Linked DNA regions of Homo sapiens. The protein of the gene in region 1 purifies or fractionates together with the protein of each later gene. This does not show direct contact. Each region holds a gene or a part of one and is shown on either strand. Other genes may lie near its edges.

Region 1 (17,043 bases):
CATGACTTTGAAGTTCACATTTTATAGACTCAAAATAACTAAGCTATTTTAACCTCAAAAAGTTTAAACCTCAGAGTAGTGTGTATATTCTGGCTTCTGGTTCTGCTTGGGTTGATAGTTAGCTGGGGGTGGGAAGTGGTGTTTGTTTTTTTAAATCTGGCACAGAAATAGTTGAATAAGGTAGACTGTTCCACCCATTCCTTTTGATTATTTTTAGTTCTGCTCTCCTTTCTTCTAAAGGAGCAGTTTGTGGATTTTAGCAGCACTTAGGTTTTCCTAAGCGAAAGTCAAAGATAAATGTATTTACTGGTACCTGTCATTGTGTATGAGAGGAAAGTACGGATAGTAAGCGTCAATTTCAATTTCAGGTAAAAAATTATGTTCTCTTTAAAACTGTTGGTTTTAGTTGTCGCTTTTTTTTTTAGTTTGTCACTTTTTTTTTCCTTCTCCGTTATTTATTTTGCAATGCATATAGTGCAGTTCTCAACATTTGCTATACCTTAATCACTTGGGGAACTTTCAAACTATATTCACAGCCAGGGTCCTAACACCAGAGTCTGATTCATTTGACCTATGGGCCCAGGTGGTATTTTAAAAAAGTGACCCAGTGAATCTTTAACTCAGATGACTGGAAAAAAAAAAAAAAAGTGAGCCAGGTAATTTTAGTGTGCAGCTACGGTTGAAAACCAGCATGGTTTCAAAGTTGCTTAAAAACATCTAGGTTCTAGTTCCAGCCCCGCCACTTACCAGCTGGCTGTTCTTGGTGGTCTTCTGTTTCCCATAGGATGATGAGGTTGGATTAGAAATTCATAAAAATTGTTGAACTCTACAACAAAATGAAATAAACTGGGATTCATATAATTTCATCTGGTTTGCTCAGCTCCAAAGAGATGAAAATTGAATTATCTGGAGTATGAGAGTGTTGTTTGAAACAAGTTAGTAATAATTTAAAAAACAGCTCTTAAGTAAACTTTTCCCTCTTCCCAATTACAAGGCATGGGAGAAAAGAAAAATAGACATTTAAGCTTAGAAATCACAGGAGACTTCCAGGGCTGCTTTGCCTGTCCCCAGCTCTCTTAAATGGGGAGCTAGTCAGACGGTACCTGGGGAACAGAGGGAGGAGGGAGAGCACTTACTACACATCAAGAAGGTAAATATAAACCCCAAAGGCTTACGTTACTCATCAGACCACAATATGGCCTGGTACTAAGCAGCGCGCGTGTGGAAGGCTGGGTGGGGTGCGCACACACGCTCACTTGTGTACGTACACACACACACACACACACACACACACAGGCACACACACCCGAGCTCAGTCACCCACATTGCTTGCCCAGGGCGCCTGGAAGAGCTGGCGAGCCCGCCCAGCTCTGTTCACCCGGCCCCGCCCCGCCCCCTCCGGGAGGGCTCTCCGGGCGGCGCCCAGCCCCGAGCAGAGCAAAGGACGGCGGCGGCCACCTCCGTTCTCCGGCCGCTGGTTTCTCGTCTTTCCTCGTCCTTTCATTGAACCCATCTCCGTGCTTCGAAAATCTGACTCTAACCCGATCTCTTCGCGTCTCCGCCTCTTCTTTCTAGAGTGAGCGCCAAAAAGGGCCTGACAGACAGAAGCCTTTGGCCCCAGCACCGGCCCAGCCCGTCTCTAGACGATTCTTGCTCCTTTCACCCTCACAGCCTCCAGTGGTCGCTTCATCTTCGCACCCTCCCGGCCAACCCTAACTCTCCTCGTCTCTCCTCGCGCTGTCTCGCGTCCTCCCCTCAGGATCCTTCCGCACATTCTCAGCGTCCAGCGCGGTTTCCCACAACTTCCTCACGCCCCGCTCCCCTCGCCCTGTCCCCGCCCTCGACACCACCTGCGTTCCCCACTCGCTCCAACCTCCCTCCCCCGCTATCCCCACTTGTGGGCCTCCAGCTCTCTGCCCCTTTCCTGGCCCCCATCCCTGACACCCCAGGGACCCTTCCTCCCTCCTCACGTTCTCCCTCCTTCCAGGATCCCGCCCCGACACTTCGGGGCCCTCCCGCTACGCGCACTCTTTCTCCTCAGGTCCTGACACCTGGGCGCCCCCTCCCTGTCACCCACCTTCAGCTCCAGCCCTGACTCTCGGGCGCCTTGCCACCCTTACGCTCCCCGCCCCGCCCCGGTCCCTCGGGCGCCCCCACTCGCCGCCTCTACCTCCCTACCTGCTACACCTGGCACCCCTGCCCCCACCCCTGCTCATACTCTTCCCCCGCCCCCGACACCTCGGGCGCCCCCTCACACGCTCCTATTCTCCACACTTCCGTCCCCGAAAACTCGGGCGCCCTCTCCCTTCACGCTCAGTCTCTCCTCCCTCCCCGCCCGGCCCCGGACCCAGCCTGGAGATCGCGCTCGGGAGGGGCGGCTGCCGCCCGCGGGGCGCCCGCGGTGCCCGGGCCTGGGCAGCGAGGAGGTGACGCCGCCCCCGCGGGATGAGCCCGGGAGGCGGAGGGGCGGAGGAGGTGCTGGCGGCGGCACTGAGCGGCGGCGGCGCAGGGCGCGCGGGCCTTCCGCGCCGACTCCATCGACCCAAGGGGCGGCGGCGGTGGCGGCGGCTGAGCGACCCTGGGCCGGGCGCGTGATGAGGAGGGGCCGGCGCCAGACCCCGCTGCACGTCGGAGCTCGCCTGGATCCGGGCGTTGGCAGCCGAAGGGCCCTGGCCCCGGGACTCTCCGCCGCTAGCCCCCGTCATATCTTCTCCGCTTTCGCTTCTCCACTCTAGCCGGGGGTGGGGTGGGTGGGGTTGGGGTCTCCGCGGGGGTTTCCGGCCCCGCGGCCCGCTCCCGGGTGTGCCTGGAGGAGTTCTCCCTCTGTGGCGCGCGGGAGCCCTGTGATGCGTCAGCCGGCGGGACGGATGAGTTGCTTCTCCGGGAAACCGTCCTCGCTTCCTCACGACCCTCTCGGCTCCCGCCTGGGTGCCCCTCGGGCCGGCAGTACTCCGCCTCCGGGCGCTCGAAGCGAGTTCCCCGGGGGCTTGTTCGCAGGCACCCCTTCCCCTCCGAGGCGGCGCGCGCGCTCCCGGCCCTGACCGCGGCCGGACACACTCGCGCCCCGGTCCGCCTGTCGCCCTCCCGCCTGCTCCCTCCAGTCACCCCACCCTTAGCTGTCCCCGCCACCTTACTCCACCACCCTCCCCCGCCTCTCCGCGCACTCCGCGTCCCGGCCTCCAGTTCCCCTTTCCCTTGAACCGCTCACTTCACAGCCCTTCGCCCCCGGGAAGAAGAAACATTTCCCGAAGCGCACTCCTCAGCCCTCCTTCCCCACGCGCTCGCCCTCCCCTCCCCCTGCTTTTCTTGGGGGAGGGGGGCTGTCGCCTTGGATTGAAGGCCATTGATTTGTATGTATTTGTCCCAGCGCTGGAGGCTGCCCCAGCCGCCGCGCCGGTGCCGCCGCTGCCAGTGGAGTTGCCTCCCCGCTTCCCTAGGGTGGTTCGGCTCCACCAAACATGTCGGCTCCTGTCGGGCCCCGGGGCCGCCTGGCTCCCATCCCGGCGGCCTCTCAGCCGCCTCTGCAGCCCGAGATGCCTGACCTCAGCCACCTCACGGAGGAGGAGAGGAAAATCATCCTGGCCGTCATGGATAGGCAGAAGAAAGAAGAGGAGAAGGAGCAGTCCGTGCTCAAGTAAGGACCTGGCTCCATATTCCCGCCTCTCTCCCTGCCCTCCGCCCCCTCGCCCACTGCCCTGCGGCCGCCTGCGCGCCCCAGTTCGCCGCCCTCCCTCCCGCTGGCGGCGCCCAGGCCACGAGGGCTGCGGCCAGCGCCGGCCGCCCGGGCTGTTTTAGGGGTGTCTGAGAGCAGGGGTGTGTGTCGGGGAGGGAGGGCGCCAAGGCCGGCTGAGGTGAGGGTGGCGAGCCTTAGGCGGTGTGATTTTCCTTGGCGCCTTTCCGGATTTCCTCGCTGGTCATCTTGGCTCCGGGGCCCCAGCGGGACTGGGGCTGAACCCAGGCTCTGTGCGTACCCTCTCCTTTCCCGCCGCGCTGAGGCAGTGACTGGGGCACAGAATCCAATATGGCCGTGCACAGGTGCTCCCTGGACGGACCCGGGCGAAGGCGCGCTGGCAGGGGATGCGGACGCCACCCTGGTCCCACGCCTCCGCGGGGCGGCTCTACCAGCAACGCGGGACAGAGCAGGGCTGCCCACAGTGGCTGCGAGCAGCGGGCGGCGGCGCGGGCTAGGGGCCTAAGCTCTGTCGCGGTCGGGTGGGTGTGCGTCCGCCGCCATCTTCCAGCCCCTCCCCCTCGGCGAGTGCTAACACCCTGCACTCTGCTGCTCTTCCTGTTTGCAACTAGTAAATCTGTTTAATCCTGAAGAGACTCCAGTTCCTACCATCACTGCAGTTTGGGATGCTCCCTACCTTGTGAAGTTCTACTATTCTTGCTCACGGTCTTGGCAGGCCGGGTTTTTCTGAGGGTGGTAGGAGTGAAAGCAGCACCCAGGCATGCGTTTACCGGCTCTGGAACTTCAGCACCAGGGAACTGTCCAGACAGGGTTATCTTTAGCTCTGAGACTACTTTTCTGGTTAGCGTAGCAAAGAGATTTGTTTCTACAAGGTTTGCTTTTGAATGTTTTATGGTTATTTGATTTCTCAGTTACTTTGTGAAAGAGGTTATTCAGAAGATGTGTAACCTTTTTATGTTTTTCCAGCTTGGCTTTTTTCTTTTTACTTGAAATGAGTTATTCAGATGATTCTTTTGCGTTTTGTCAAGTATACGTTTCCCATATTCTCCACAGAAATATACAATTGAAAGTGTAGAGTTCCTCTGTGAAGGAACTAATACACTCACCTCTATTCAGGTACATTTTAAAAGCAGGTTGTTGAATTTAGTAGTCTTTCATGTACTAATAAAGAAACAGGTTTCATTGTCAATAGGTATATATTTTCATATTTTAATGAAAAATACCACTTTAAATAATTTATAGTAGCAAACATCAAATATTCACAAATCTTAGAGAAAGATACTATTTCTCACAAAATATTGAGTGGCTAAAAGAGCAAATATGTTCCTGAAATAACTGAAATTAAGAATGTCTTCATGAAAGCTAATTTCTGGCGTTGAATACTTATTTGGGAATGTTATTTATTAACAGCCTTCAGATATGAAGAAATTAAGAGACTTAAGCAGTTTACTCTAACTAATAGAAGAATAAAGCATTATTTTTAGAAGCTTTTTGAGCATACTTCTTACTGTGCTTAACTTTTTTTTTGTATACTAACAATGCCAAGCTTTTGATGACTTGCAGTTTGATATTTAAATATGTGAACTTAATGCCTTTTACTATAATTGATAAAAATCAGTGCGGCCAAAATGATGCTCCAGTAAAATGTAGTTTTATTTTTTTGACTTACCTATTTAAATGTAAAATGTGTTTTTATTTCTTCATAGTAGAAATACTATGTGGCTAGTTCACTGTAGTTCTAAGTTTATTTGTTGTTTTAATATAGAAATTTAAGTGGACTTTAAGTATTAGGATTATTCAAAATGAACAGTATGTTAGGAAGATGTTGTAAAAGGGTTTTTCAGGTAGCTACATATGTATATATTATTTCTGTATGTAAACCTACATACTATTCAATACATATAATATTTACATATTCATATTTCCATAGTTTAGATAGAAACAAATGTTCTCTAAATACATATTCATACAATCTATAAAATTACATTGATGAAAAATATATATTCAGATTTATTTTAAATATTTGTTTGCATTGCTACCTAACTTAGTCTTAGAAAGGAGTCTTACCTCAAAATGGCTTTCATGGTTTCACATTCTTGTTATATTTATTTTAACAAAAAGTTATTTGGAGGTTAAAGCATAATATATTTGGACATTTGGTTTTAAATGTTCTTAATTTTTTTTTAACGAAAGAGTAGGCAAGGAAATGAAATGAATAGACTTTATAATGGAATTATAGTAATGAGAGACAAATCATTTTGAAGATTTTGACAGTTTACTAAATAATACATTATCAATATTGGGTATTAAATTACAAATACATAAGAAAAATAATACTAACGGTCTTCAATGGTTACTATTTCCCATGAAGTTTTAGGGTTCGCTTACCTAGTCATTACTATCCTTTGTTTCTTTTTAGTGCTGTTCATTACATTGAAAATTAACATGTATTTTAAGAGTAGAGAGAAAAATAAACTGAAATTTAAATGCATGTCTGCTGCCTTTTAACATTTATGTTAAAAAATACATTTGATGTGTGAAGATACTGCAATGGTTAGATAAAAATATTTTTGCATGATCTGTGAGTTTCAATGTTCATATTAAGTATTCATGCAAAGTGGAGAGAAAGAAGGAATTTGAACCTTATTAATATTTAATATATAGATGACAATACCTAGATGCATATAATTTTAAATATGCATGTAGTGAAAGATTCATGCTTGAGATATTTTTAATAAGAGAACTGAGTGATCAAAACTGAGACCATTACTGTTATCTCTCACCTTAGGAGCCTGAATAATTAAAAGCTATTCCTAATTATTAGTAATTTCCTCAAAGTCCAGCTGAACATCCACATAGGAAGTCTATCATCATCAAATAATACCATTTTACATATGAGCGAGGTACTATAATTTTGGAAGCATTTAAAAATCTCAGTAGAACCCTAATCAGTAATTACTTTAAAGAATCCTTTCATGTATTGCTGTAGCAGTTTAAATTTGGCTAATTCAATTTATCAGTAAAATTTATAATGTCCTTTTACTGACTAATGTTTTTTTTTCAATCTTCCAAGACATCTGAATGATTAATGTTTTTAAGTCTTGTCTTTCAAGATTGTAAACTTCTTGAGGGCAAGAATCAAAATTTACCCTTTTTTTGAGTTTGTGTTTTGCAGCATCCTTAACACCTGCACGTAATAAGTACTTAATAAATTGTGTTTATTTAAATTGTGGTAATGTTAATGAGGTAGCTTATCAATTTTGTGGGACAATGAGGAATCATTGTTTGAAAGAAAAACATAATTTATTAAAAGTTGAATTTCCAGTGGGTTTTTGTGTAATTGTGAAAAAATGTCTGAGGAAAGCAAACCCACTAAATCAATAGAAAAGTATTCAGTAAATACTGAGTTTCTAATATGTACATATCATAGCCTTTCAGATAAGCTTTTTGTAACACAAATTAGAAATTATGTGTTTCTTGATGTGTATATTTTCATTCATAGTTTAGATTTTCTGTTAAAGGGTTAATTTGCTTCCCAAATAAAGGAAGGCAATAAGTAAAAATTTTCCTGATAGGTTAGGATAACAATTAGTATATATTTAGCACATATATAGTGAGCAGTTCTCTATTTTTTAAAATAATTCAATTTTAAAAGTATTTTCTAAAGTTAATTTATAAAATTTTGAAATAAAATCTTTTTTTTTCTTTCTTTTCTTTTCTTTCTTTCTTTTTTTTTTTTTTTTTTTGAGATAGGGTCTTTCTTGGTTTGAGGCCCAGGCTGGAGTGAGATGGCGAAATAACGGCTCACTGCAGCCACGACCTCCTGGGCTCAAGCGATTCTCTCACCTCAGCCTCTGGAGTAACTGGGACCACAGGCAGGTGTCATGACACTCGACTAATTTATTTTTTATTCTTGTAGAGATGAGGTCTCCCTATGTTGCCCAGGCTGGTCTTGAACTCCTGGGCTCAAGTGATCCTCCTGCCTTGGCCTCTCAAAGTGTTGGGATTACAGGTGTGAGCAACCCGCAGCCCCCAAATTTCTTAGCTACCTATTTCCCCTACCCAGAGCCAACTACTGTTACTAGTATATTTTATATTGTATACTCTTCTAGAGACAGTCTATGCATAAGAATAAATACATGTGTATATATAATATTGTGTGTGTCTGTATATGTGTGTATGTGTGTGCTCATACATGTATGTATGGATGGATGTAAACGTAAAAACAGAAATGTGTCCTGCAGTTTGCTTTATAAGAGGTCAGTTCCACATCTGTGACTGTATAGCTGCCTCGTTAACCTTAATGGATATAGGATATATACTATCCCTTTTAATGAATATTCTGTAATTTCTTTAACTAGTACCATATTTGTGGGTATTTAAGTTTTTTTCTAAGTATTTTGTCATTAGAAATTTTTAGTATTTATCACAGTATTATCTGTGATAAATATCTTCGTACATGCATTTCCTACATGTATGAATGTATATTTGAGACAGATTCCTAGAAACAAAGTTGTTGGGCCAAAGGGTTAGTATATTTTAAATTTAATAAATATTGTGAAATTTACTTTTGTAGAGGAAGTGTGTATAAGTGGTGTGTACTAAGGGGACTTTCCCACATCCTCGCCAACTCAGTGTATGGCAATCTTTACCAATGTTTCAATGAAAAAGATGCCACTGTAGACTTATTTGCAATTTTCTTGTCAGAAAGATTGAGAGCCTTTTTAAAAAAATTTGGTTACAGCCATTTGTATTCCCTTTTCTATTAGTAATTTTTAGTGATTTGTGGAGGCTCTCTTACATGTTATTTGTTTTAGGACCTTGTTTATGCCTTTTTTACTGGTCACGATTTAAAAAAATTGAATTTATTGTAGTTTTGTTTTATGGATTTTGAGTTTGTGATCTTCTTAGAATGATCTTCCCTATTCTAGTATTTTTAAAAAGTACCAATTGAATCATGAATACTTTTAAATAAAAATTGCATATGTAAACCACTGTTGCCATTGCCAAAAAAATGAAAAACTATAGTTTTTAAGGATTCAAAATGCATTCTAAAAAATTGATTGACATTTTATAAGAAAACAAGCAAACAAAAAATTGACTTATATTTTATGAAAGAGTACCCAATAAATTTATATATATTCTATTTTGAAATAAGGGCAATTAAATAATATCTTCCTCTTGACAATAGATTTTGATAAAGAACTAATTATATTGTGCGATGAAGAAAGAGATAGTGGAAGCAAGTGTGATAAACCAGATGAACTTTGACTTGACACCTTACTTTACTAATTAATAATGGTAACGTTTTGCTTATATTATTAAACTCTGAGTTTCCTCATCTATACTATTTGAGTAATAACACCTATTTTGAAGGATTGTGATTGTTATTATTAAACTCTGAGTTTCCTCATCTATACTATTTGAGTAATAACACCTATTTTGAAGGATTGTGATTGTTATAGACTAAGTATCCTGGCATAAGTAGTGGTGCAATAAATAATCATTATTGTTAACTGACATAGATAGCACTCTTTAAACCTTATCATAGGATTGCTGGGTGAAATTTTCTTATTTTCTAAAAATTGAGAGATTCTTTTCCTTGTCTATTATGAAGTCAAAATATGCCAGGAGGGCTTTTAAGCGACTTCATTATTTGTTTAGAAGACTAGGGATGGGGAGAGGGTGGGTGACAACTTGAAAATAGTTTCCTCAGCAAATACCATTCTTAAGGAGCCTGATAACTAAGACATAGCAGTGAAAATAGCACTGACATCAAGTTATTGGTAATCGGCAAGATACTGATAGTCAAAGGTGAATTGAGGGGACTTACTTGTGGAAACTACTTTGTAATTGACTTTAGATTTGCCTTGGTTAAACTTTTTACTCTATTATTTAACTAAAATCTATATTTACCTATTTGTCTTATTCACATTGTATCTAAGAACCCAGAGAACCGTATTAGGTTAAGCTAATTCTGAAGTATGGTTATTGAGCTTAGAATGCTGATCTTCACATCGCCCCTCAAATACACTTAAGCTTTGTATGATTGCCGGTTTCTCATCCTTCTGGCTTAGCTTCAAATTTGGATCTTTAGAGAGCTCTTTTCTGACCACTCTTTCTTATGTAGATTCTCTCCATTATTCTTTATAACAATACCTTTTATATTTCCCCAATTATGCTTATCAAAATTTATAATGATTTATTTACTTGTTTATGGTCTGTCCACTCTGCTAGATTATCAACTCAAAGAGAGCACACACCATGTCTGTTTTGTTCACTAATGCAGCTTCAACTTCTAATGTAATACAATGCCTTACACATAGTAGTACTCAAAAATATTAATCGGGTGAATGAACGCACATTGGGAATGAAATATTATGTTCATCTAGGTGGTACAAACTTTCAAGGTGAACTCCAATAATCTTAAAAAAAGATTTGCTTATGTAGTAGTGTCCTTATTTTTGAAATCAAATGTAATTTTTAAACATGCCTAATTTTGCTTATTTTACATGGAAGGAAACTTACAGTGTTTGTGTATGATTGCAGCTTATCTTTCTTTTGGACTAAGAGCATATCTTTTTTGACTAGAAACTAGAAGAACATTGTGATAGATATCATTTTTAAATTTAAGGAATATTAGGAATTAGGGAAAATTTGGCTGTAAAAGTGATCCTTTAAGAGAATTGATACATTTCCATTGTGTTTAGCACAGATGAGTGATAAAGAGTACACAGAAGGCTTTGGATAGAAATAGTTCATGCCCTCCAGGGACAGATAATCTAAGGCCAACCATAATCATATGAACACATAAAAATGTAAAGTGTCATGAAAAAATACTGTAAAGGTGTTTTTAGTACATTATAACCATGGTAAAAAATATGTCAGACTAATCTTACTAGTAGTTTATTGCCTCTATGGTATTGTTTGATTATATTGTGTTATATTACATGGTGTCACATAGTTTTTCCTGTTAAAATATCTGAAAGTTTCACTGCTAGATATTAAAAACTTTTGTATTCTCTAGTCACCTAATGAAATACAGATATCTCTGGGAGTTGAAATAATTTTAACCATTATCAGGTAATTCTTAAGGAGCTCATTGTAAGAAACGTGATAAACCACATGAAAATTTTGCATGGTAAGTACCAGGAGACTACTGTGCACTACAGTGTATCATGGATATATTTTACAAGAGGAGCACGTGATTCAGTCCTGGGAAGATGCCATCTAGGCTGAATCTCAAATGATGAGTAGATGTTAGCTGGGCAGATTGTTCTCTAAGCAAAAATCTTAAAACTCCCAATTCCTCTTTGCCCCCAAAACCTTTCATTTGTTAAAAAAAAAAAAAAAAAAGAAGACGATGCAGGACATGGTCAAGAAGTTTGCTTGAAGTGGTTCAGAAGAGCACAGATTTAAATGGTGATGCGTCAATAGAGGAGACTGGAGAGATGGCAAGGTTCAGAGCCTAAAAAGCCTTCTATGCTATTCTTTGGATTTGGCAATAGGGAGTCATGGAGGGATTTTAAGCAGTGACACAATATAATTAGACTTCTGTTGGAACAAAAACCACTCTCATTTAATAGATTGGTTAGAAGGTGTAATACTAGAGATAAAGGCACTATTTAGGAGATTCTTACAGTAATCCAGGTAATAAATGATGAAGACATGAAATAAGGCAGTAGAGGTGGAGGTGGAGAGTCAAGACAAATTTTTGAAAAATTGAGGAGCCAAAATTGCCAGGATTTGACAGCTGTGTGTTAAGGGTCAGGTAAACTCTTATGATGCCAGACTTGCGTAACTGACTACTGTACATAATATATATCTGCCTGTATCTGCTTATCTCACTTATAGTTAGCTCTGTGAAGTCATCTGGTCCTAGGACCAGTGTTCTCTTGAGGGAGCAGTTGTGAAGTGGCTTATTTTATTGTTTTAGTTATTCTAGAGAGTTTGTAGCATTAATATGAGTAATAGAAGTGACTATAACTTGGTATAATGGGATGGTAGTAAAAAGGACCAAAAGGGACAAAGAAGAAAAGAAAGGACAAAGAACAAAGGGGAGAAAGTAAGATTAGGGCTCTTGGAATCCATTCATAATTAGAAGGAACCCTTCTTAATAGCTTATAAAATTTTTTCTACTGGGTATATTCACACCATGTAATCTTTTCAGAACTTCAGGACTATCATCCTTTTACTGAATATTCCCTACTCCCATTGATAACTTAGTCTCAATGAATTTCTCACCCTCTGGTTTTATTTCATTCTTTGTGTATTTTAAACTATCACACAATCTTTGTTTTATATGTTAGGCTTAGCAAGGACAAATTTCCTTCCCTGTATATATTTCTGTATCACCTCTAAGGGAATTTTGGAAATATGAGTGTATTTTAGGAAAATATAGAGAGGAGATTAGTTATGGAAATGACATGTGGAAGTTGGTGAAGATTCTGTGCATCTTTATATTAGCTTACTGAATTATTGCAGAATTTCAGAAAGTGCTTGTATTATAAAAGGGAGATAAATTTTATTGGGTTTTGTGATGGGAAGCTCCAGAAATAGGAATTGAGGTAGAGTTATGGAAAGGGGAAAGTTAAGAAAAGGTTTACACAGGAGTAATATATTATTTTACCTACTTTCTTTCTAATACGGGTAACCTACAAAATTGAAGACAACTAGATAGTATAAATTAATTGGTCAAGAACTAACAACTTTAATACAGTTTATATATTATGAACACATATCTATATTATATATACCTGTCAAAACTCTTACTTTTTGTACAATATAGTGCTAGCTAAATGCTTTTTAAGGCATTTGGAATTAACAACTTTTGTATAGTTACATGGTTATAAACATTTAGTATTTTTATATAATACAAATACTTTGATAGGTTCTGCTAAACAGAGGAACTGGATAAATGCTCCTTTAAGGCACAGGAGGAATGCCCTTTAGCATTTTTTTCTTCCAATCAAGCTTATGTTCAGCTCGAAGAGACAAATAGTTTGGTAGTTTCTTGTATCCTGTAACTAGGCTTCTGGGAGGCTAAAACTAGGGGAAAAGGATACACTAAACAATATAACTGGGTAGCAGAATAACCACAATGGTGTTTGGTGCTTTGGTATTGTTCAGTTGACAGATGGAGGTGGTGCTCACATTCATCTTGTTTTGTTGGCATATTTGGTATCTGTTATCATTTTTATAATAGTTTGCTTCCCAGGCACATAGATGAAAATCTGTTTTATCACACATAAAACAGTCTTCAATCTGAAAGAATTAATTAATACTTCTATTAGCACACTTATTTTTCTCACTGGGCCAAAATCTAGGTGTAGGTAGGGCCGCATTTCTTTCTAGAAACTAAAGGAGGATTGTTTCCTTGCTCATTTGGGTTGTTGAAAGAATTACGTTCTTTAAGTTATAGGACCGAGATTCTTGTTGGCTATTCAGCTGAGGGCTGTTCTTACCTCCTAGAGGCCTCTTTCTGGTACTTGCACATAACTTGCTATATCTCTGAACAAGCAGTGGGGCATTTTGAATCTTTATTGCGATGCCGTCTCTCTGACCTTTCTTCTGTCATTGCATCTCTCTCTGCCCACGACTAGGAAAGATTTTTTCTCTTTTAAGAACTCATGTGATTAGCTTGAATTCACCCAGATATTCCGGAATAATCTTCTTATTTTAATCATATCTGTAGAGTTCTTTTTGCCATATAAGGAAACATATTTATGTGTTCCTGCAATTAGGACAGAACATCTTTGGGGGGCCATTTATTCTCCTTATGACATTCCTCTAAAGAGTGCCAGTAGATATAAATTTGGATATATATTTTTTTATAAAGTAGATACTGAACTATTCTTATTTTTTAAAAAGTATTTTGTATTCAGAGATACAAATTCCAGAATATCTCTGAAATAATATTTTACTATATATGTTGTACTATAGTTTATAATACTATATTGCCTTCAAAGTGCCGCCAATCTGCATTCCACTTTTTATTTATTTAACAGTTTCCTCCAGAGTTAAAATGTTTGTGTAACTGGGTTTTAGGTGGAGGGACTGGGGGCAAGAAGTGTGAATTGTTCTGTGCCCTGTACGTAAAGATTAAGTACTATTCCTAAGCAGTAGTCATGTTAGTTAATAATTGTATTTATTTTTATAGGGAGAGGAGTAAATAATTTTACCATATGACTAACATAGTGAAGAGTCATTGAAATATTTTCATATGCAGTATTTTCATTATCCAATGGTCATGTTAAAAGACTCAGCATAACTTTATATTCCAGTATGAATAAGTAAATATTTGAATTTAATATTTCCACAAGAAGTAGTTTCTTTTGGCATGTTTGGTTGAATATCCATACTCTACATAAGTGTGCCTTCATATATTACTTTTTTGTAATTTTTTACCCTAGAGTCTGGTTTAATGAAAAGATGCACAGTAGTGTATGTTATGATTAAACTTCATGACAGGGTTTAGGATATAATCAGTTGTTTAACTTAGGCATGTAAAGATTAAAAGTAGCTATGAAATAAAGTAGAAAAAGAAAGTAATCCAAGATTTTTCTTTAAAACTACTAATATAAATTTATGTTGCAGTTGACAGTATGTTAGGATAGACTAGATATCAGAGTCCAGTCTTGATAGAAACTATAATAGTAATTTGAACAGGGACATTTTGATATAAAGTATTACTACTCATAGCAAGGAGCAGCCTTCTTCTAGGGGTAAGGTAGAGTACCTATGACAGAAACAAATTTCAGAGAAGCCCTTCCTGTGTGTCTGAGGCTGAGATTCAGCCCTCATTGGAGGATGTGATTGTGGCTCACTGAGCTGTCTCAGGCTGTGGCAGGCAAGCAGGACATCATCTGTGGGAACGTTGGTGGGACTTGCAGAGAAGCTGGCTGAGGTGCTTAGGAAACTTATTGGGAAGCCACCTCTTGGGGTGCCAGTGAGACTTCTTGAGAAACTGTCTGCTGGGGTGCCACTGAAACTTGCTAAGAGGTTGAGTAACACTGGGTGTCTATAAGCTACTGGCAACCATGCACTGTAGCAAGAACAACGAAACACCCAGAACCTTGAAGTCCTTTCTTCCTTTAATGTCACTATGGCTCCCTCTAGTGACAAAGTTTAACATTTTGCCAACTGCAAAGGAGAAATGGTGACAGTCCAGATTCACTATCACAAAGCAGGTCAAAGAAGGGTGGATTTGGAGCTGAGAGGCAGTAAATTTATAGTAGGCTATGTTATCCCCAATATTCGTATCTTAAAACAACAAAGGTTTATTTCTTTTTGGCGTTATATGTTTCTCTGGATCTCTTTGGGTCTCTACTCCATGTCATCCTCATCCTGGGACACAGGTTAGTGGAGAAAATGCTTTCTGGAACATTCTGAGCAGCTGAAAAGGGAGGCTGCAGTGAATCCTAAGTTGTCTCTTAAAATTTCCTCTCAGAGGTATGCATACAACTTCTGCTTGCATTTTGTTGGCCAAAGCAAATTTCATGATCATGCCTACCTAACTCAGGGTAGAGAAGGACAATCCTATCATGTATAGAGGGAGAACCAGGAGAATTTGTTGAAAAATATAACTATCACAGGATTGATAGAATTGGCATTAGAAAAGTGGGCAATCCTTAGGATAATTGTAGTTCCCGCTTTACAATTTTGTCTTATTTGCTTTCTACTTTTTAAAGAATAAATTTTAGTGAAAAATAGTATCAACATACAAATTGATGATGCTTTTTACTTCTGAACCAGTGAACTCAAACTAGACAATGAGCTTAGTCATTTGTGTAACATAGTGAAGCTGATAAACTAAATCAGCAGGAAATTTTTTTTTGAAGGTTAGGTACAAATAGACTTTTATTTTGAAATTTTGCATTTTTAAAATGTTGTGTTAACTAATTCTTATAAGATATAGAAAGTGGCAGGGCTGCTGTCCAGGTCATGTCATTCCTGGATGTATGCATAGTCCTTGAACTGGATTTCCCAGGATGAACCCAGAATGTATGGGCTTGGAGGCTGCCTGCAGTCGGCAAGTGCTCTGGGTGAGCTGGGCCAGGGAATTACAGGTACATGTAATATGAAATGCCTCTATATGCCTCTATAGGATTTTTTTCCCATTTATGGTTAGTCTTGGATAGGGGATAGAAAACGAGATTTAGATATTTGGATAATAGTCCTGGCTCCATCATTTATAAGCTGTGCTATCTTGAAGAAGTTAGTTAACTTCCTGCATTCTATAAAATGAAGATTGAAAACACAAGTCCACAATTCTGTAACTGAAACTCATGGTGGCAGATGTTTTGGAATTCAAGTATTTTAGACTTTAAAAATGTAAAGGTGTATATACTATAAGATATGTAACTCTTAGCAGGGTTAGGACAGTAGCCCCTAATCAAACATTGATATTTCTCTCGTGAAACATATGAATATTTACAAAAGGGTTAAATAAGGACTACATATAGTCAGGCCAGGAATTTTGGCCCAGACTTACACAAAAATAATTTTTGTTTTCAGAGCTTTTTGGATTTGGGAATTGTGGTTAAGGAAGTATGGGTGTGTGGTATCTTTATCATAGGAGTAAAGTGATGCTATATAAATGAAAGTGCCTGTGAGCTGTAAATTGCTGTAATATGTTAATTATTGTAATCATAGTGGCTGTTGATGTGACCATTATCACCAGCTATTTAAAATAATATTTAAAGGAAAAATTGAAAATTAGATTTTGCTACTTGTAGGATTTTACATAGATCAATATTGGGGTCTTTATTGATCCCAGGTCATTTGAATTTTGATTTAAAACAATTTAAATTTTACTCTTTCCAGAAAGAGCGTTACACATAAAATATCTGATTATATAACTCTTTTGTTTAACGTATCAGTGTTTCCCTATTGCCAGCTACATGCAGCCTTTAACTGGATTCCTTCTCTGAACCATGGAACATACAAAATAGTAAGTAATTCTTTTCTTCTACCAGGGATGGATACATAAATAGTACCATTCTAGAAGCATAAGAAATAAATTAATGTGTTACATACAATGGATGACTTAGAACATTAGAGCTTACCTCTCTTCCAGACCTCTAGCTGACAAAGGCTAGAAAAAGTGTAAAATTCTTAGCATGTCAAACTAGGTCCTTCATGATTTGTCCTCTCTTCATTTACCATCTTTTAGACTTTTCTTCTCCCTTCCCACTGTATATTTTGGCTGAATAGTTAATTTACTTTAACTTAATGCTTCCTAACCTTTTTCACGTGATTCCACATGTAGAAAACAATAAAGGAGGTGTATGTCATATTGAGATAAACTGGGAAAGATTGGGGGCATCTACATGAAAGTTGGTAAAAAAATT
Region 2 (16,592 bases), on another chromosome or scaffold:
CCAGGTATCTGTTTTGTTCACTGATATTTCTCCAGCACCATAAAAATATCTGACGCATTATTTCCCCAGCACCCATAAAAATGTCTGGCACATCGTAAGTATGCAAGAAGTACTTGTTGAATAAAATGTAATGTTTCAGTGTTGGGCTTAGTGCACGAAAGCATTTTTCAAATATTTTATGTAATAAATCCAAAAGTGTCTTCTATTTTATTAGAAAATTGGATGAATCAACTGGGCACAGTGGCTCACGCCTGTAATCCCAGCACTTTGGGAGACTGAGGCGGGTGGATCATGGGGTCAGGAGTTCAAGACCAGCCTGGTAAAACCCCATCTCTACTAAAAATACAAAAATTAGCCAGGCATGGTGGCGGGCGCCTGTAATCCCAGCTATTCAGGAGGCTGAGGCAGGAGAATTGCTTGAACCCAGGTGGCAGAGGTTGCAGTGAGCCGAGATCGTGCCACTGCACTCCAACCTGGGCAATAGAGTAAGACTCCAAATCAAAAAAAAAAAGGGAAAGAAAATTGGATTAACCAAAATGTCCCAAAGCATTTTGCATAACTGAGACATTATAAAAGATGACTTTCCCTTAGCCTCTGTTCCTAACCAGACATTATTCTGTCCCCCCTCCTCCCTGTGGTGCTGTGTCTGTCCTCCAGTGTCCCTCCCTGAGTACATAGAGGTATACATGCTCTACACGTGCCTGGAAAGGCACCTGAACTGTCTTCTCCCATGGTCATCATATATACCACATACCGTAAGCATCATGCATGTGTTACACATGCGTATCTGCATGTCATACACCTCTTGGATACTAAAGATCTGTAGGGAGACCGGACTCAGGGCTCCTCCTCAATGATGCACACAGTGAAGGCTAGTTCAGCTTCAATTCCCTTTTATCTCTGGTCCTCACTGTGCCTGGCCATTTGGTTGCTATCACAGGCACAATCTTTGTTAGGTGAGACACTGTGTATTTCTGGATCTTGTGAAAAAAAAAATTCTTGTCCCAAATATGTGGAGGTCTGAGTGAAATAATCAAATGGTGTAAATGTGGTTTTACACATGCTAAGCAAGGAGTAATTAACAAAGGTCCTATATTTGATAGGCATAGGTCTGGAGACAGAATCAAATCGGTAGAGGCAGAAATGTAAGAAAAAGCAATCTGGCAAACATTAAGAGCAAGGATGGTACAGATCTTAAGGGGCAACAGAAGGAAGATCAAAACTGTTGAGGGCAGGCATTTAGAAGAGGCCTGACGGTGAGGAGCCGCTTCCTGAGGGATCTGAGCAGAGGCAGAATAATAGGCTAAGAGGAAGGCTATTGTGGCCGCTGTCTGGGAGCGGGAGGTCCTAGAGTGGTACCAATGAGGTGGCGTGGCCTGGAGGGCCTGCCGGTCAGAACTTGAAGAATGAAGTCTTCTCTTCCGCAGTGGGAGAGCAAAGGGGGAACTTGGACTAGGGCACAAGAGTCAGTGCAAGCTGGCTAGGAAGGTGGGGGCAGCCACAAAGTCCTGGTAGGCTATGTCATGTCTTTATAGGAGTGAAAGTGGAACTTGGCTGGCCTGCTCCTGAGGGGAGGACACCACAGAAGGGTGACGCCTGCCAAGAGCCAGGCCGCAAAGGCCCAGTCTGAGAACAAGGTACCTCTGACACCTCAGCGGACTCAAGGGAAATTCCCTGCATCAGAGCTTGAGGGAAATTTGTGTTTGGGATGCCGGCCTCAGAGCCTCTGGCTTGTGCCAGGCCGAGGTGCAGACAGTGGTCACCCCTTCCTCTGGATGCTGTCTTTGTACTGGTCACTCTGATGCAGGCTGACCCCTAAATTGGGGCTCAGCTGGAGAGAGTTCTTGGCTTTCCTAAGGAAGGAATTTAAGAGCGAGCTGACAATGAAAGACAGCAAGTTCATGAGAGGAACAGTATACAGGAAAACAAGTGCTCTGTAGACCGAGCAGCGCTGTCTTATAGGCAGGGTAGCACAGAGTAGCACTCACAGAGTGCTGGCCGGCTCTATTTATACCTACTCTAGTTACATGCTAACTAAGGAGCGGGTTTTTCACAAACTTTCTGGAAAAGGGGCCAGGAGTTCCTGGAACCATCTAAGGTAGCTTCCCGGTCATTGCCGTGGCATTTGTAAACTGTCATGGCGCCGGGGGGCGGGAGGGGGGGTGAGTATTGTCTTATGCAAATGCATTATAATTCCTAGTCCTAGCTGGTTTGGGCTGGTTTCTTTGCTACATCAGCAGGGTGGTGACCAAGGCTGGGAAAACAAATCCTGCTGATCTTCTACCTCCACTCTGCAACGCAGGCCCCAGGAAGGACATCTACTTCTGTGCCCCTCTGTTTTCAGCTCTAAAGAAAAATAGACGCGTGACATAGTCACAGAGTTCTTCACTCACCACATCATTTTTCCTTTCTGCACTTCCCTCCTCGAGTGCATGTCCTGAGGGGAATTCATCAGCTTTCAGTTGGGCCCATCTCTAAGCCCTGTAGGCCACGAACTGTAGGAACATATTCATTTTTGCACATAAGCTCCGAAGACCTGTACTTAGGATTAGTCCCAAGAAACATCAGTTTAAGCGTGGCGACAGGGGGGTTCAATTTGTTCCCCTACACGGATCCGGAGCGCCTTCTAAAGGAGGCGCTCTAATGTGGGGCATGTTTGCCCCACATTTACTCCTGAATTACCAGTTGCTGTCTTAATGAGCTATTTGCTCAAGGGAATGTGTCATAAACCTCAGGCTGGCTACTGGGGAAAAAAAGATGAGAATCTGTGCTTTGGAGTAATCAGACACTCCCCCACTCCGGCCTGGCGTTATAGAAAGTTGCCTGGCCAGCTCCAGGCAGGCCAACCTGCTCTGGCAGGACCATGAAGCGTAGGGTGTAATTTTTGGTTTCACCCCTGCTGCAGCAGTTGGATAATGAACCCTATATCTCTTTAACCTTTGTTTCTGCCAGGCTAGACTGCGAGCACCAATGAATAAACAGCTGTCTACCGTCAAAAATAACATAGGCTGAAGTTTGTGGAAAGATAGACTCTAACTAGATGGTTTTAGTTTTTAAAATCCTCCACTCTGGTCCAAGAAATCAACTGTACGTGCACAGAGCAGAAAGCTGCATCCACAGCAGCTCAGCAAAGGAGGCTGAGAGGTTTAATTCATGAATACTTCAACAGATGTCAGTGGCATGACTTCTTTTTAACTGTAGGCCCAGTATAGCATCATCTAGATCAAGGAAAGAAGAAAGATCATAATTTCTCTGCACTTTACAATTTGTTTAGTCTAGGGCACCATACTAGAGACGGTTTGGAAGAGAACCAAAACTGTCTTATGAAGAATTGTTGAAGAAATTGAGAATATTTAGGCTGAACAAGAAAAGATCTGGGGGTGTGAAGATATCCATAACAGTTATATCCAAGTATTTGAAGACTTGTCCTGTTAAAAAGAAATTAAACATGTTTGCTGTTGGGTCATTGCCGTGGCATTTGTAAACTGTCATGGTGCCCGTGGGAGTCTTATGCAAATGCATTATGAGCTCCAAGGATAAATGAGCGAAAAGTAAAAGGAGAAAGACTTTAACTCAAAATGATAAGTTTTAATAATCAGAGATGTCTAACAATGAAACAGGCTATTTTTGGAGGTAATGAGTTACTCATTGCTGGATGCATTCAAACAGTGGGAGAGCCACTGTTTATAGGCAGGCTGTAGAAAAAGCATTATGCACTCTGGAGATGGTTCAAGGAGGTGACTCCTGAAGTCTCTTTCAGCAACTCAGGAGAGTGCCTTGTAGTTGGGTGTAGTTGTCAGTAACTGCTTAATATTACATGTGTTAATGGGTGCAAAAGGAGGTGAAGTTAAAATATTAAGTTAACCCTTCTTTGGCCTTGTGAAAGCATTTGTAACTATGCATTGACCGGGAATGCTAGTTAGATTCACACATCATCACTGTGGGTTCACACCATTAAACATTATTGTCCGGACCTCACAAAGGAAAAGAATGGACCTCGCTGTGAAGCCAGATTTGGATTTCGAAGTTAAACTGAAGTTATCTTTGAGAACAATTAAAAAGGATACGTCAAAATTAAAACCATTGTTAAAATTAATCAAAGATTTAGAAAGGTAGAATGAACTTCAGGGCTGGAAATTACTGATTTAAACAATTGTTCTCACATTTTAAACTACATGAGCTAAAAATTATGAAGTCTCAGAGTATAGCTTTAAAGAGTAGCATAAAACCAAAGTCAGAATGAAATGTTTTAGCTTTCAAAACTAAAAAGCAGAACAATTACTCCCTACAAAATGGTATAGGAAGAGGTTTCTGACCCCTGCTAATTGTTTTATTATTCTTCAGAGGGGCATACTGGCAGCATTTCCCAGGGTTTTCGGTAATTACACTCCATTCAATATCTGAAGAATTACAATAATTCTACATGGAATATACTTGTGCCCTTCAGATGCAAAGCCTTTAGAGAAGTGAAAAAACAACTTAAAAGTAAATTAGCAGGGAAGTTATCATAGTTACTATTTATTTCACGGCTCCATATATCAAGGGCTAATTATACATTGTACGTTACATTTTCTGGGAGGGATTTGTGATATGTTTCTCATGCTGATCAACAGATGGATGTGTCAGTTTTCACGATCTTTGATGAAGTGAAGTTCTAACTTTTCCAATTGCCTCTTTGTGTGCGAAATTATCCAATGCAGGTACATGTCACTTCAGGCTTGCTAGAGTCCTCAAAGCAGTAGTATTCAGTGAGGTATTATGATGCTTGCAGATAATATATTTGTAAGGCCTTGACTCATCTATGATTTTTTTTTACACTATGTAAGCTTTCTCAAAGTCATTTTCTTATACTTTGGCAAGCCAAGGGTCCGTGAGAGAAGAAAGGGTTGACTAGAATTACATAGCTGCTCAGAGATCGGGGAGTCTCTTTCCCTGGGTGGAGCCTTATCAATTTTCTGCTAGTGTTGTAATTAATCTATTATCTCCACAGGACCCCCTTTAGAGCCTGAGCAGTAAAGTGTCCTGAAACATACATAGTGACCAGGAGTGCCAGCTATTGTTCAAATACCGTGACATTCTGGCTAAGAAATGGAGCGTAGGTCTCATCAGTGTTTTTCCCCAGGGGATAGGAGTCTCTGTTTCTGTCCATTTTCTTTTCTCTTTTCTTTTGTTTTTAATTGAGCTCAGCACAAAAGATTCCCTTTTAAGTCTTTATTGCAACCAAAACTTTACAAAGAAGTTAAGATGATCACTTAGTGACCAAATTTTAAAAGGTCAAATCAATTATAATCTGTCCATTTGGTTGAATACATGCTTTTTAAAAAATGTTTTAAAATGCAAATGGCATGGAAAATAGTCACAATGCAATGTGAAAAATTTCAAATCAAAATAAAATATGTATGTACTATATGAATTCAAATCTTTTAAAAACATGTTTTTATATATTTTTAAATATAAGAAGGCTATATGCCGAAATATTAACAAGATTACTCTGTGAAGTAATATTCTAAGTGATTTTTACTTTGCTCTTAACATTTTCTGTATTTTCTGAATTTCTTTTTTTTTTTTTCTTGAGACGGAGTCTCACTCTGTCGCCCAGGCTGGAGTGCAGTGGCGCGATCTCGGCTCACTGCAAGCTCCACCTCCCAGGTTCACGCCATTCTCCTGCCTCAGCCTCCCAAGTAGCTGGGACTACAGGCGCCTGCCACCACGCCCGGCTAATTTTTTGTATTTTTAGTAGAGAGGGGGTTTCACCGTGTTAGCCAGGATGGTCTCGATCTCCTGACCTCGTGATCCACCCGCCTCGGCCTCCCAAAGTGCTGGGATTACAGGCGTGAGCCACTGCACCTGGCCTGTTTTCTGAATTTCTAAGATGTGTATATGTTAGTGTTATAATCAGAAAGGAGGAAGAAGGGAGGGAAGGAGGGAATCAAATCATCAGGATTAACATTAAAATGCAAACTTTTGCTGGAAGATTAGAGAGGTCAGTAATACAGAGTGTGTAGCAAAAATGTGAAGGTAGAATATTTTGACTTGCTGTTCAGCCAATAAAATCTCATACCTCATTAGTGAGTCTTATTTACTGTGAGGAACTTGATAAGCTAACCCTTCTCCACATCTAGGATAGTTACAGATTCTCTTACAAATTCATGGCAACCTCAAGAAAGGATGGTGAAAAAGCACTAATGTACAGTCTCAGGCATGATAGATGTTTTTTACATCATGGGGAATATGCCAACAATTATGAGAGTTATGCCATTAATATTCCTTACCTGAAAATGCCTTGTATGTATGTGGGTACCCCTTTGAAATAATTAAACAAGTTATACATCAGCTAGTTGCCTTCAGATAGTCAACATCTCAGAACATGTCACTTCTCATGGTACCAAGTATTGCAGAAATGGTTTGTTTTCCTTTTTGGATTGTACTCTACGCTTACTTGAATTTCTATCTTTCTTTTTTCTATATTCCTTTTAGCGCATGATTGCAAATACGGCCAGAACAGTGAGATACTACAGGAGCCAACCCTTCAGTAAGTTAAGTGCTGCCACCTCTTACAATGTAGATGTTGGTGATTAAGGTCTTCTTAATGAGGCCATTGAGACACCCTTGGAGCCTGGGAAATATCTGACTGTGTCAGAGACACTTTGGACCATGAATTCCATGAGATAGGGGCCTTGAGTTTAAAGATTTTTTTTGCTGTTTTAAACTAGAACATATTTACATTGTTGTGAAACTAGAAAATCACCATAGGAATATTATTTTGTGAATGAATTTAAAGAGATTTAATTTGCTCTATCCAGTGCAGCTGGAGACAACTAAAGTACGACTGCCAACAAATCCTGCCTCAAACCAACTCTCTTTATGACTCATTGCTCCATGTTGAGAAACTCACATCAGCCCTTGATGACTCAGTTCAGTCAATTATAAACCAGGAAAGATAATATTTATTGTCTTTCAGGGTGTTGCAAGAATGCATTAATGTTTATAGCACATTCGTAAAAGGTCCAAAAACAGGATTTCATATTATATTTCTAGTATTCCCACATGAATTTGAGGTGCTCTTTTAAAATCTGAACATCTATCACAAGAACTGGTATAATACTTTAATATAAAAAAATTACTAATAATAAATAACAATTTTAGTCTGTTGGGAGTTAAGTTGCATCATAGCACCAGATGGTCATACTAGACCAGTGCTACTGTTTCTTCTGGGCTGGGACTTTGGTGGTGGGGGTGGAGCTTTGGCTCCCTCAATCTGGTCTGGAAATGAGAAGGTGAACACTAAAGGTTTTTGCTAAGCTCATTGTATGACTCACTTGAAGAAATTTATCTCATTAACTCAATATGATACTATGACATAGACATGAATCTGAGGCTACCAGTACCGTCTCCTCCAATAAACCGAGTGCTAAGAGACTATGATGTTCTTGTTTTATTAGTCAGAGTTGTTTGTTCTTCCTAGAGCAGGACTGGCTCATGGCCAGATTTGCTAACATGGGACACCAGAACTACTAAATGTTCATTTTTTAATGAATAGGGAGGAAAAATATAAGAAAAATGACATTGATTTGGGGAGCAACTGATTCAAATGACTGTGCCTTCTCTGACTTCCAAAATGTGAATAGTCTTGCAATATCATCAACTATTCTTATGTGGATTCAGCCAGAATTAAAGTGTCTCATGTGTTTTCATCTATTAATTTACGTTGTGTTTAAAGATGTGATCATAAAGCAGTTGTACAAGTGGAAACAAGAATAGATAAGTGACACCAGTTACAACCGGAGTTTATAATCCCAAATCCAGCAGCGGGGATAAAAGGGGACCCTGAAATTATATGCCAAATCGTGTGTGCCTGAGGGGGTTTATAGCCTTAAGAAGGTTTTCAGTGAGGCTCAAGAACCATAAAATAATATGCTTTGTTTTATGAGCTTCTTTGGAAGTAAATCTTGCATTCTTCTATGTCACCTCCTAGAGAAGCCAAGGGGAAAATGTATTTAAAAAGAAAAAACTCCACTGCATTTGTTGAAGTTATCAGTAACTGCTGGTAAACAACAGCTGCTCAGCTCTGAAGTCAACAATCTATAGATAAAGCTATAGGAATAGATTCACAAACACTGTGGGAATGTGTACAATGTAATTACAGTATATTGTACGTGTAGAGTACACTGCCAGTGAGAAGCAGAGGAAATTAAACACAATGTGCTCTGCAGTTCGCTGTGGTATTATTTCTATGTGATAATTATACTGATGAGTTTCTTCTCACAGGGGGCAGGGGCATGTATGTCTTCTCTCTGCTTTTCTGCCTTCAGACCTGCAACACTCCCCTTCACCCCTTGTGCAGATGGCATTCTAATTGTCTTTGGGAGTGCTGTGTGGATCTAGCAGGAGCAACCAGACTGCAGAAGGCAGTGTACTGTGGTGGAAACCCCGGTCAGGAGCCAGGGTCTGGCTCTGCCACTCCGGGTGTCCCCTTAGACCAGAGGCCCTACCCAGTGATGCTTGAAATGGAGGTGGCCCACAGAGGTGTTGGGTCTAAAGAGAGCATTTTTTTCCCTTTTATTTTGAAATAATGTCACCATTTTAAAATTGGGAGAATTCACGAAGAAGAAATCCAGATTTCCCATTTCTTAACAAAAAAAAAAAAAAAAAAGGAAGATCTGGCAACTCTAGGCACAGATTCCCCGTGGCAGCAACATGCAGAAGCCAGGTCATCACTTCCAGAGGGACCTGTGTTTCCAGTTCACCACCTTCTGGTCTGGCTTTCCTTATTCATGTATGTTCCCTGCGAGGGCTGAGTGCATTGGCTCATCATTCAGCCCTGATCTTCATTAAATTGGTTAACCTCAGTTGCTCACATGCTTGGGATGTGCATCAGAATAGAATGGTAGCTGAGTTTTCAGAGCAGATAGCATTAAAGAATCAAACGTCTAGCAGAAGTCATAACTTCAGCCTGTGAGTTGGGTTTTTTCTGAATATGGACAGTCTCTAAGAACATACAGTCGGTATAGTAATGCTGTATACTGTGTGCAAGTAAAGAGGGGAGTCAGGACTCTGTAGTCTCACTGGCTTGCTTCAGTTTGGCCCAGATGTTAAGCGCTTTTGTGAGGGGCTAATAAAAACTGTCTTTTGACATTAGTCTTCATCTGGATCAAAGGAGGCAGAGACACAGAGTGTGAGACACAGAGACCTCTGGAAAGGGAAACAATTTTAATCTATACCCAGGGGCTATCAGACACATGCTTCCCTTTTAATTTGGTGCCATTTTTTTTTTACAACGTGCAATTCAAAGGAGAATGATCAAAAGAGGTGATTCCAGGGAAGAAAAGAAAATTGGAGGGTAGGAAGGAGGAGATGGAACAACCAAGTGGAAACGTTTCAATGATTGTGGTGTGTTGAAAGGTCTTGAGGGAACCCAGGAACCTATGATAAATGTAATAAATAATTGGAGAAGTAAGATTGTATCTTATATACATATATTACACAATGCCAATTCTGCCCTTTCCTCTTTCAACAGATCCTGATGCAGCTCAAGCTAATAAGAACCATCAGGATGTCCGGAGTTATGTACGGCAATTAAATGTGATTGACAACCAGAGAACTTTATCACAGATGTCACACAGATTAGAGCCTCGTCGACCATAGACATTTCAAATGCCCAAAGCAACAGTTTGTCTCCAGTCCACAATCTTTCAAAAATGCCATTTATGCTACTACTGACTGTATTGCCACTAGAGAATTCTACAAAACAAGCAAAAACACATCCTGAGACACCTCAGGGCTGCATTCAGCTTACCAGCTACCTAGCAAGAGAAGGAATTATTTGACATGCCTAAAGCTTACACACTCTAGCTTAGGAATCCCCAGTTTGTGGCTACCCTGTTTCATTTCCACTTGTGCCATCTTCTTTGCTGAAGTGTTGAATAAGGCCCACGTGAAGAGTTTGGTAGAAATAGCCTTGTCAAGAGAACTAGCAAGCCCCTGACATTTTTTTCTAAGAGTGTTTATGGGATGAGATGTGCTACAAATGGGATAGATTTGGATAAAATTTTAACTCAACATCTTGATTTGGAGCCTGGGGTTTCGGGAAGGTGTTGAGGAATCTATAGAAGTCCAAATTATAGGTTGTATTCTTCCATCTTCATTGTCTTACCTCTGAAGGAATAGAACCTGACCACATTATTATGAAACATTATGGCTGTTTATGTAATTTAGGGAGGACTGGTCTGTAATTTCTGAATGTATATAGAATAATATTTATGTTTACAATGTAACTTTTCAAAATTTACAAATCAGGATTATATACATAAGAATTCCACTAAGAAATGCCAAGATTCTTAAATTTGCCAGCGTTAAAGTAGAAAATAACATTTCAGAAGAGCACAATATGCATAAAACATTTTTCAAAATTGAAATATTTTCCTGGGCATTAAAAACCTTTACTATTGGCTACAAATTTATTGTACCTGATGAAAACATATTTTCTGGACTTAAATGTTATTACAAATATCTTAATTTTCAGTAATTGTTTTGCACTTTCAAAGATTGTAAATAGTTCATTCAATCAATGGTATGGAGTTATTTATTTGCTACATAATAGATACTGTGCCAAATAATTACTTTTTATTTATTTTATTTAGTACGTAATTTTGAAGTACATTTTTTCCTGTTTTCACAATTAGACTACATTTAATGTGTAGGAATTGTATGTATGTATATCTTCTGTAAATAACATCTAGTATCTTCACTAAATATAATTGTCGACAAGAAATGGTTGTGTTCATCTCAATTCCTATAATATGAAAGGGGTAACCATTTGGTATGGTGGGGTGTTGGATCTTTTAATGACACAAAATACACATATTATAAAATTCATTCTTTTAAAGTGCAGAATCCAGTGATTTTTAGTATATTTACAAAGTTGTATAGATAACCATCATCACTATCTAACTTCAGAACATTCTCCTCATCCCTAAAAGAAACTCTGAACTCATTAGCAGTCACTTCTTCTTCTCCTCTCCCTCCAACCTCTGGCAACCACGAATCTGCTTTCTTTGTCTTCAGATTTACTCTGGATGTTTCATATGAGTGGAATCATACAGTATGAGGCCTTTTGCGTCTGGTTTCTTTCACTTAGCATAATGTTTTCAAGGTTGACCATATTATAGCTTGTACCAGTACTTCATTTATTTTTATGGCCATGTAATATTCCATTCTATAAATAGACTACATTTTGTTTATCCATTTATCAGTTGACAGACATTTGTCTGTTGTGTTCACTTTTCGGCAATTAGGAGCATTGCTGCTCTGAAGGGGCACTGGATTTTAGAGCTCCCTTGTGTGGGGCCTCATGCCATTTCTCAGTGATTTAAGTACTTAGCAAATATTTGATGAAGAGATATCCAAAATTCTTTAAATTCCAGACATGCCTCTATTTTTTTTAATAAGTCAGCATTTTCCAGAGTGTGTTCCAGCCTATTCTAGTCTCACAAGTTCACATATTGTCCCTCCAAAAACAAACACACACATACAAAGCCAAAAACAAAACCAAGATTCTATCTTCAAATAAATGTGGGGACCACTGCATAATATACCCCATTCATAGAAATGATTCCCAGTATTCACTCACACTGAAGGCTCTGAGAAGTCCTATTGTAATCCCTTTTAACATCCCACAATTAAAGTCCACTTTCAGAAATGCCAAAGCAGGCAAATGCCTCTCTGTGTTCATTCATATAAAATTTCAGGGTCCCCAGAACCAGAGGCGGTGTTTTCTGCGGTATTACACCTGCCTCTGGAGGCAAGTGCAGTGTCTGGGATTTACTAGACAATAAAAGAAGGTCACTGAATAAATTTTCTTGAAATCATTATCGTTCAGTATTTCACTATCTGATAGACCTCAATGTCAGCTGCAAAGGTTCCACTTTTATATATTTTCCTTTAGATATCCTTTATAGTTTCTTTTCTAGATAATTTACAAAGATGATGAACGAAGCTGGGAGCCCGTTCCTGGGGCATCCTTGCTCTTGTTTTGCTTGTCTTTATTCCTACTTTACTGAAAGCTAGCATTCTATATACAGCAGCACTTCTCCCCAATTCCATGGTGAATGCCAACTTACGATCTTATTTTAATATAGTTTCAACATTATTCAAAATTAATACATATTCCCCATGTATGTTCCCCTTGTTCTTCCACATGAGAATAACTTACTGTACTTAATAAAGATAAGACATTTTTAAGTATTTCTAGCTTCTTTGAAAATGCATCAAACTCCATTCTTGAAGGTAGCAGTGGTAAAATAATAGAATTCGCACTCTAAAAATGTAGAGTAGTAGCCAAGCAACCCTTCCTGAGGCAGGAGATGCAGTTAATACTTTAAAACTTGCAAACAAGCCAAAAGAAAATGAGATGCCTACAGGGTCACAAGAAGGATAATGAGGTTTGCTGGAAGATGTGAAAAAGAAGAATGTTTTTACCAAAAGCGCCTGTAGAAAATTATACATTTGAGTGTTTAACATACCTATTTAGCAAGGTCACTGGCATAGTTTATGGGAGCTAAGCTCTTCCGGCAATTTTTGAATACCATGCAGGTTAAATATACTCCTCCTGAATTCAGTGGCATTTCCTCTGAAGGTATGAATGCAGATCAATGACTACCAGTGTGAGAAAATTAAACAGAGTGTCATTTTAGTTTCAAATTGTGCTCCGAATAATAATAAAAAAAGCCTGGAATATGCAGTGTGGTAAAATGAACCCCTACCTCGAATAGCTTTCCTTTTACTGTCAATCTAGAATGCATTACATCTCTTGCTTTAGAGTAATCTTAATCTGTCCTACATTGAAAATTGTGGTATTAGATGAACAGTTACCTTATCCCTTACTTCTAAACTGGAAAAAAGCCTTTAACTTAGGTATTGTTAGTCACTTTTCTATTCATTCATTCATTCATTTTCATTCATAGAAAATAATGACTGAAGTGCTTACTGAGTGCCCTCTGTGGACACAGAATTCAATGGTGAGGACAACTAGAGAAGGTCCCTGTTCAGGTAACCAAAAAATGATGTGAACAAATAAATAGAAAAATGCTTCCTGCTGGGCGCAGTGGCTCACGCCTGTAATCCCAGCACTTTGGGAGGCCGAGGCGAGTGGATCATGAGGTCAAGAGATCAAGACCATTCAAGAGATGTGGTGAAACCCCGTCTCTACCAGAAATACAAAAATTAGCTGGGCATGGTGGTGCACGCCTGTAGTCCCAGCTACTTGGGAGGCTGAGGCAGGAGAATCACTTGAACCTGGGAGGTGGAGGTTGCAGTGAGCCGAGGTCACGCCATTGCACTCCAGCCTGGCAACAGAGTGAGACTCTGTCTCAAAAAAAAAAAAAAAAAAAAAAGAATGCTTCCAAGGAAGGATATGGTGTTGCAAGAGCATGTAATAAGGGAATTTAACCTGATCGGAGGCAAGGAAGTGTTCCCTGTGAAAGTGACAGTTGAGCTGAGCTCTGAAGGATGTGAGTGCTGGCTAAGACAGAGGAGGAGAATGTGTTCTAAGCAGAAAGTAACATTGGCAATAAGGGACAGCAAGCTCACTGTGGCTAATGGAGATCGAAGGAGACAGCATTTCCAGATGTGCTGGAGAGCTAAGAAGGGCTCAGAGCATGTAAGGCCTATGCAGACCTTTGAGTAGGAAGTCATTGAAGAGCTTGAGGCAGGGCGTTGCATTTCCAATGGTGAGCCCTTGAACGGCAGGGCCACTGCTTTCTGTGTACCACACTGCCCAGGACACTTGGTAAGGGCCATCCCTAATTCCTTAGTTACTTTATTATGAAGGCTTAAAGGTAGAGCAGAGGGAGCTGTGGAGAATGCAAGCATTCAAAAGCAGTAGTGGACCCAGACACCCATACAGACAAACATCATCCCTTCTCCTGACTAAGTCCACACTGGGCCACTTTTTAATTTTTTATTGTGGTAAAAGATATACAACATACAATTTACCACTTAAAGCCTTTTTGAGCAAATAATTCAGTGGCATTTAGTACATTCACCTTGTCGTACAGCCGTTGCTGCTATCTATCTCCAAAACTTTTTCAACATTCCAAACTGAAATTCTGTGCCCATCAAACATTAACTCCCCATTTTTCCTTTCCTCCAGCCCTTGGTAACCACTATTCTTTTATCTCTATGAATTTGCCTTTTTTGGGACTTCATATAGGTGGAATCATACAATATTTGTCCTTTGTGTCTGGGTTGTTTCACTCAGCTTAATGTTTTCAAGGTTCATCCAAATTGTAGCATGTACCAGAATTTCCTTCCTTTTTAAGGCTGAATAGAATTCCATTTTATGTCGATTCTACATTTTGTTTGTCCATTCACCTGTTCAAGTCCCAACTTCTCAATACTTTGGGGTATATACTAAGAAGTAGGATTGCTGAATCGTATAGCAATTCCGTTTAATTTTTTTAGGAACTGCCATACTGTCTTCTACAGTGGCTGTACCATTTAATGGGCTACATTGGACATAGCTCGTAATTACCTGCATCATCTCCGAAGCTGCCAATGTATGGCACAGCTGTTGAGAGAAGGAGTGGGCAGGGGACCCAGGGCTCAGTGTGTGGGTATCCAAGCAAGGAGCAGGGAGGCTTCATTTGCCAGTGTCCCATCTGTCAAGCCAGGGCAGCTCATGAGACAATCACAGCCCCAGAACCTCTGTCCATCCTTGCTGCCCTGTGGGTTGATGCACCACACTCCTGCTGCCTGTGGTCTTACACTGCAGGATGGGAGGAGTGAAGGGAATGTTTCTAACCCCCAGAGAATAAGGGCGTGGGAATGGGAAATGTGGTCGCTTTGCTCGGGCTCCTTTGCATGTGCTTTTCAGGCAGCTAGGGAAGGTCAAGGATGCTGCTACAGGAAGCCAGGATCTTTGTTCCTGGGACAATTCAACCTTGGAAGGATTGGGGCCAAAGCCCTGCTCTAAAGGGAAGTAAACACAAGGCACTATGGGCTCATGGGCTCTGACATTTCCCTCCAGATTTGAGGAAGAAAGAGAGCCTAGAGCCAGGGCATGTGAGAGCCGCCTGATTCCATCCCAGTCTTCTTCCTGCATCCTCCTCTGGGAGGGTTCTGACTCTTCCTAGCCAGAGAAAACTCAGGAAGAGTGGAATTCTACAATAGGAGGACCAGTACAAGAGAAACATGAGAGCAAAAGTTGGTGTAAACCTCTTCAGAACAGGTTTTTGCAGCACCTGAGACAAAAAGAGGACTGGAAAAGCTGCATCAGGTCTCCATCTATTTCCTTAGCCAGAGACAGGTGGCAAAAGTCTCCAGGTGATAACATCAAGGACCTGTCAGGAATGGAGGAGAATCGACGATTTCAGGAAGGAGTCCTGACACTTTAGGACAGAGGGACAGACTGATGATTCAGTCTCCCCAGCAGGGAGAAGCGCTTGAGGTAAGGAGACACAGAAGCTCTTGGGGAACGTGTTCTGCACTAGCCAAGCTGTGGTAACTTTAGAAGAATAAAGAAAGAGGTTGTTCAGTGATATCAGTGAGTTTATCAATTGCTGTGTGTATTCGGGTTATCCAGAGAAATAGAACCAATAGAATGAGCTTTAAGGGAGATTATAAAGGATTGGCTTACATGATTATGCAGACTGGCAAGTCCAAAATGCACCATGTGGACTGGCAGCCTGGAGACCCAGGAAAGCTGATGGTGCAGTTCCAGTTTGAAGGCCGGCAAGTGGAGACCCAGGAAGGCTGGTGGTGCAGATAAAGTCCAAAGGCAGAGTCTGCTGGAGCATTTTCTCTTGCTGATGGAGGCCAGTCATTTTGTTCTATTCAGGTGCCTTTAATGGATTAGATGAGACCCGTCTGCATTATGGAGAGCAGTCTGCTTTAGCCACAGCTCACCAATTTAAATGTTAATCTCATCTAAAAACACCCTCCAACTTGACAAAATTAGCCATCACACTGTATAATAAACCACTCCAAATTTTAGTGACTTAAAACCACAAGCTTTCAATCAACAACCATGAACCATGAGTTGATGGGTTAACTGGACAGTTCTGCCATCTGAGCCAGACTTAGCAGATCAGGGCTGGACTCAGGCATGCATTTGTGGTCAGCTGGTCTAGGATGGCCTCAGAAGGAATGACTTGTCTCTGTTCCATATAGTCTCTCACTCTCCAACCAGCTATCCTGGGTTTCATCACTTGTTGGCTGGGAAGTGTTCCCAGGAAGCAAGAGGACAAGCAAGAGCTCTGGAGGCCCAGGTCAGAACTGGTGCTCCAAGAAGACACTATGACTTCTGCAGCACTTTGCTGACCAAAGTGGTCAAGAGGATAGCCAAGAGTCAAAGAGTGGAGAAACAATTCTCTTTCTTGATGTCTGGCACAACCAAGTCATATCATCAAAGTTGTGAATATAAGGAGGGGAAAGCTGTTGCCATTTTCACAAACCATCTACTAGAGTGAGGGTAGCACATAAGGGGAGTGGCTGGAAGGTCCACTGTTCTTGTTTAGGGAGAGCTTTTCAGGCGTGGTGCAGCCAGCTGTTGAAAGTGCTTCTCCAGGGTGACTCTATTAGCTCTTGGGGAAGCA

Evidence for each region.
Region 2: the proteins of RIMS2 (region 1) and RAPGEF4 purify together in Homo sapiens (affinity purification with western blotting; 2 studies listed by BioGRID). This does not show direct contact.

Annotation. Positions count from the first base shown.
Region 1 is NC_000008.11:103,497,429-103,514,471, forward strand, and holds the start of RIMS2 (regulating synaptic membrane exocytosis protein 2), read left to right. Parts: upstream 1-3,181; 5' UTR 3,182-3,458; coding exon 3,459-3,634; intron 3,635-3,971; exon of another isoform or gene 3,972-4,260; intron 4,261-4,367; exon of another isoform or gene 4,368-4,482; intron 4,483-17,043. UniProt on the Homo sapiens protein: Rab effector involved in exocytosis. May act as scaffold protein. Plays a role in dendrite formation by melanocytes.
Region 2 is NC_000002.12:173,042,123-173,058,714, forward strand, and holds the end of RAPGEF4 (rap guanine nucleotide exchange factor 4), read left to right. Parts: intron 1-6,477; coding exon 6,478-6,532; intron 6,533-9,517; coding exon 9,518-9,645; 3' UTR 9,646-10,771; downstream 10,772-16,592.